Regions from separate parts of the Homo sapiens genome. Here region 1 is linked to region 2. A link means that fine-mapping ties the variant in region 2 to the expression of a gene that starts in the linked region. Tissue or cell type: caudate. Region 2 holds a variant in brackets; the other region holds the start of a gene. All regions are shown on one strand. Distances are between the middles of the regions.

Region 1 (2,619 bases), 67 kb before region 2:
CAGGCCGCCCGCGTGTGCATGTCCGTGTGCGTGTCCGTGGGCGCCCAGATGCGGCGGCGGCGACGGCTCCAGCTGCGCCTCGTGGCCATCCTCGTGCAGCGCGTGGTGCAGGCCCGGCCCCGCGCCGCCACCGCCCGCCGCCAGCATCCCGGCCAGGCCGCCGCCGCCGCCCCCCGGGTAGGCCGCCTGCGCGTACAGCCCGAGCGGCTGGGGCTGGTGGCCCCCGCTGGCCCCGGGCGAGGGCGACATGGCCGGGCCCAAGTGGTGCGCTGTGCTGCCCTGCGCCCATGCCGCGCCCGCGTGGGCCGCCCCCTGGTGCACCAGGCGCGCGTGGAAACCTCCGCCGCCGCCGCCGTCGTCGGCTCGGCCGGTGCCGCCGCCGCCTGCCTTGCCGTGTTCTAGGTGCGGGCCGCCGGCCCAATCGCCGCCGCCGCCTCCTCCCGTGGGTAGCCACTGGGGGTGCGCTAGGCCCACGGGGTGGCCCGCGCCCGCGCCCAGCCACTCGTGGTGCATCAGCTTCTGCACTTCGCGGTACGCGGCCCCTGCATGCAATCGCTCCGCGGCCGCCGCCGCCGCCGCCGCCGCCGCGGCGTCCGGGTGCATAAGCGGCCCGGTGCCCCCGGCTCCGCCACCGGGGCCCCGCGGCAGGTACTGCGCGGTGGTGGCCATGCCGCCCCGCGCCCTGCGCCGCGCCGCCGCCGCCGCTCCGCTCCGTCTGCGGGCCCCGCCGCCTCGCTCCGCCGGCTTAAAGCCCCGACCCGCTCGGCGCTCCGGAGCCCCACCCCGCCCGCCGCCCATTGGCTGCCCGCGGAGCTGCCTCCCGCCTCCCCTGCCCGGCCCCCGCCCCGCGCGCCCGCCCGCCACCCTGCCCGGCCGCCCAGAGCTCTCCATTGGGCGTCGCTCCCGGGGTCCCGCGCGCCGGCCGTGCTGATTGGCCGCTGGGGCTTCATTCACGGCCCCCCTACCGTCCGCGTACACACTCACGCCCCGGGGGCGCGGCCGCCACGTGGGGAGTGGCGCGGGGGTGGCCCTGGGACCGCACCCCCTCTCGTCCTGGCTGTGTGGGCCCCGCTTTCCCCCAGCGCTGGAGACTCCGAGCCCGGCCGGTCCCACATTCCACGCGAGCTGAATTCCCGCCCGCATCCCGCCCGGGCAGCAGGGATTGCCGGCTCCGGGAGGCGCTCGGGCTCCGAGAAGCGGCTCAGCCCCGCGCCCCTCCCTCCTCAGTACCGCTGCCGGCGGACCAGGATTCCCGCGGGTCCTGGCGGCTGCGAGCGCGAGGCGGCGCGGATTCGCGGCTCGGTTCCGGCGCGACTGCTCACCGCGCCCGCCTCGCCTCCCGCGGCTGCCAGCGTGCACTGGGCGCTCCTCGGCGCGTCTGCCCGGCCCGTCTCGGCTTTCCTTCTCCTTCCTCTAGTCCCAGCGTCACAACTCCGCCGACCTCCTCTGCCCTGAGAGCGCGTCCGGTGCGGGCGGAGTCGGACGGACTCTGGCTTCACGCCTCGCGCGGGCACACCTTCTCCCGGGCACTGAGGCCCAGGTGAGTACCGCGCGGGCAGCTGGGGCTGGGACGGCGGGCGGCAGCGGTTCTACAGTCCTACGCGAGCCCCTGGTACCCGGCCGCGCTCCGGGGTTCCAGAAGGAGAAGATCTCGAGGTGGAGACTGTGGCTCCGGGGAAAACGCTGCTGGCAAGGGCGCTAGTTGGGGGTGGACGTTGGGCCCAGGGGTATCTGACCTGCGCCGCTGCAGCCTTCTCGCTCCTTCTCCCAGCTTGAACGGCTCATCGGCTGTGGTCGTGGTGGGATCACGCCCCGGGAGAGGAGAAGGATGGGCTCAGGGAAGGGGCTCGGGCTCTCCAGAAATCCGGCGTGCAGGCCGGGAGCTGTCCAGCCTCGCTAAGAGCCCTGGGCTAGAGTTTGCCCGGACTTGCCTGGAGCTGCTGAAAAGGGAATTGAGATTGAGGAGGCCTTGTTGGAAAGGTGGGCAGTGGAATTTAGCTACCTCCTCACGCCCCAGCCCTTGAGGACTCCCTGAAGGATCTTGAGTGGAGTCGGACCTCACTGCAGTTCCTTTGTGCCTTCTTACCCGACCTTGGGCCCCAGGCTGAGGGTACTGAGCTGTGTTTTCTCCTCTTCCCCACACCGAGGCTTGGGTCCCAGGGAGTCTTCAGCTGCCAGTCCTCCCTCTTTTCTCTCCTGGATCTAGCCTCAAGTGGATTTATAGCTTACAGGGCCCTGGGGTCCCAGATCACAGAACTGAGCTGGGGGCCCACCTAGGGCCCCACTGGGCAAATCAGGTCTGTGGAATAAATCCTTAGATTGAAAAAAGTTGCTGGGGGCTCAGGTGGCAGCTGCCATTGGAACGATCCAGGGCGGCTGGGACAGAGTTGACAGTGACAGGGGTCACCCTGGGCACAGACTTTGATCATGTGGGCCCTGAATGCCCTAGGACCAGCCAGGGAAGGAGTGGGACAGAGCAGGGCCCTTATCCTGCCATTGGCCACTGTCCTGAGCAGGCTCCGTGGTCCCACCCTAGCTGTAAGAGCTGCGATGGAGCTCTGTGTCTGAACCGAGCTAGAGATACTGGGCTTTCCTGGACTCTGGCCCAGGGAATGGTCA
Region 2 (2,756 bases):
ACATCCCAAACTTTACATAACAGGAGCAGCAGCTGGAGACGCCCACAGCCCTAATTGCTTTTCTGTACTAAGAGAACGTCTTCTCTTCAGCTCTGCTTCTCCCATTCATTTAGGTAATTACTGGAGGGAGCCAGCTGTGGAAGGCTGGCGGGCAGGCAGGCGCATTTGTGACACCACCTAATGGGTGCCGCCATGAGGATGGGGTGCCACGGGAGCTGGAGCCTGTCCGTGCTCTTCATGGGGAGTAGGGTGCTGAGGATGGGAGGCCAGCTGCTCGGCTTCAGTCCTGATCTCAGTGGGCCCAAAGTGAGCTGCCGGGATGGAATGCCTCTCCTCCCAGGGACTTGACAAGCACGATTCCAAGAAAGGACAGATCCAGAGCCAGGTACAGGCATGGGGAGGGGAACGCATGGAAGAATCGACTCTGCTCAACGAATTGCTCAAGGTGCTTTCTCTGAATCTCATGTTGGGCTGGGGCACTGAGGCCGATCAATCAGGAAGAGCCCACTCTCTAAGCTCACAGGTCAGGGGAGGAAGCAGTCATGGGCCAGAAAGGGCTGGGATCAAAGGAAGCTATCAGGACTGGGGTGTGCAGAGGACACAGAGACTGACTCTGTCTTGGTGACAGGGAATCTGGGAAGATGTCTTGGAATAAGAGATAGTAGGATTGGGCCTTGGAAGTGTGTATGACCCTGCAGTTGGTGATCCCTTCTGCAAAATGGGGCCAAGGAAAACTTCCAGGCCCCAAAGTGACATCTGGTTTGTCCCCTTGCTTCCTGGTCCCTAGTAACAACCTGGGACTCATGAGGATCCTCTTGAGGTTTCTTTAAGGCAGTCCTGAGCATGGGGCTCGCAGCTGGAGCCAGCCTGGAACCTGGGCCCTTGGTGGTTGGCCAGGGTGGGTGCCCTGGAAGAGTCAGCTTTGAGCCTGTCTTCAGAGGGGCCCTAGGGAGGGCTGTGGCCTAGGCGCTCTGCCCACCAGGCTTCCTGTGGGTGGCAAGTGAAACTTTTCCTCTTGGTTCTCTCCCAGAAGCCAGCTTCATTCCCCCAGCCCCAAGTGGCGGCTCCTTGGGCCGGAAACAATGTGCTTTCTCCACGCCTTAGAGTGGAAGTCAGCAGTTTGGCACCGTCTGGCTGGCAGCCTCCACCGGCTTCCTTTGGCACTTTATTGGCAAAGGCGGTGACATTTCTTTCAGTTGGGTGGGTGGAGCTGTTATGCAAACTCCCGCTCTCCTCATTCGCCAGATGAATATTCATGACTCAGGCAATCTGTACCAGCCAGACTTTCCTGAGGGCGGCAGCTTTTCTTCTCTTCCTCTCTCTCTTTTTCTTTCTCCTTCTCTCCTTCCCAGCTCTTTGGAAAGCTGAAGTGCAGCTATATTTAATTTACAAATACAGAGCCATTTAGCTTGCCTTTTGAGATGCAGGCACTGGGGAGGAGGTGCTGGGGAATGGGAACAGTGGTTGAGGAGTTTGGTCCTGACCCTGTGCCTCTAAGCTCCAGTGTCCAGCCCCTGGGCCCTAGATCCTGGGAAGCTTTGGGAGTCTGGAGCTTCTTTGAGCTTGGCCTCTTGGGGCCTTCAGGGATGAAGGTACAGCAGCTCACGCCACCCCATTCCACACTGGCCTCTGAGGTCAACATGGAAATTCTCAGGCAATGATG[G/C]TTTCCTGCAATTCATGGCCTGGGACCCACCAATACATCTTCTCCCGCTCTGCTCTCCCGTTTGTCAAGGCCCACCCAGATCCTGCTCCAAGCTCTAGGTGGAAGCCCAGAAGGCACTGGAGCATTTGCTAGTCATTGGCTTTCCGGGGAAAGAAATAATCCTTGTTTGGGGTCCAATTCCTTGGGGACACATTACTCCCTTTCTAGGAAGGACAGGTCCCTAGTTTCCTTTGTCTCTTCCCAAAGAGGCACCAAGAACTCTGGCAGAGGGGTCAGAATTACCAGAATTTGCCAGGAAATGTGGTCTTAGCAAGGATGTGCTTGCGTGAGCACGTCTTGTGTGTGTGTATGTAAATATTTACGCACAGCTTAAGTGAGTCTGTGTGCCTACATCTATGTTCAAGTGTCTGAGTGTGTGTCTGTATGTGTAAGGGCGTGAATGTGTGTGTCGCGGGAAGTCTGGGAATGCTTGCATATGTGCGAATGTGCCTCTCCAGTTCGCGTTGCGTGTGTACCTTTGGGGGGACTGGGGATATCGTGTGTAAATACGGGTGTTCCTGGGGGGCCCAGACGTGTATGCGAGTGTGTACGTCTATTAAGTGAATTGTAGGTGTGTGTAAAATGAGAGTCTGGAGGAGAGAAAGAGAGAGTGTGCATGTGTGTGTGTGTGAGTGTGTGTGTTAGGGTGTGTTTCCCTGACCTCCATTTCCTCCCAAACCTTTTCCTCTCCAGGAAGGTGGAGGGGGACGTTTCCCCCTTTGCAAGTGTTACAGATTCTATCCGAGGACGTGAACAGAAGGTTTCCCAGCACAGAGCGTCCTGAAATTACTTTATATTCCCCCCCTCCTTGTTTCATCTAATCAAAATAGCAGCATTAGGCTCACCCATTCTCCCTGCCCACCCCTCAGCCCTGGGGGAGGGAGCGAGGCGGGCGGGCCATCTTGCCTGACCCCCTTTGAGAGCACCTTGCAGGCCTGAGCCAAGGAGCTGTCTTCCAAATCTCCTCTTTCCTCAGCGGCCCATGCTTCAGTGGCAAGAGCCAGCTGCCTCCCTGCCTGCCAGCAACTGCCAAGCTCTTCCAGAACCCACATCT

Alleles and levels. Alleles are on the strand shown, and positions count from the first base shown. SD is a standard deviation of normalised expression in the study named.
For the expression in caudate of the gene that starts at base 1,060 in region 1, C is the low allele of the variant in region 2 and G is the other (small effect, 0.19 SD a copy in GTEx).

Evidence for each region. PIP is the estimated chance that this variant, and not a neighbour inherited with it, causes the effect.
Region 1: it holds the start of MIR3659HG, and the variant in region 2 is fine-mapped to the expression of MIR3659HG in caudate (GTEx, PIP 0.98).

What each region holds. Positions count from the first base shown.
Region 1 is chr1:38,046,075-38,048,693 of GRCh38, forward strand. It overlaps MIR3659HG (MIR3659 host gene), which reads left to right and starts at 1,060. Exons shown (of 5, transcript NR_168386.1): 1 at 1,060-1,540. It overlaps POU3F1 (POU class 3 homeobox 1), which reads right to left and starts at 719. Exons shown (of 1, transcript NM_002699.4): 1 at 1-719. The coding sequence starts at 669. RefSeq lists a silencer at 780-1,109 and enhancers at 1,022-1,522, 1,523-2,023.
Region 2 is chr1:38,113,302-38,116,057 of GRCh38, forward strand. The region is part of intron 4 of MIR3659HG (MIR3659 host gene); the gene reads left to right. Among named protein-coding and RNA genes, the nearest start is that of MIR3659, 25 kb to the left of the region's middle. RefSeq lists enhancers at 672-1,537, 2,648-2,756. The variant G/C (reference allele first, on the strand shown) is at 1,664.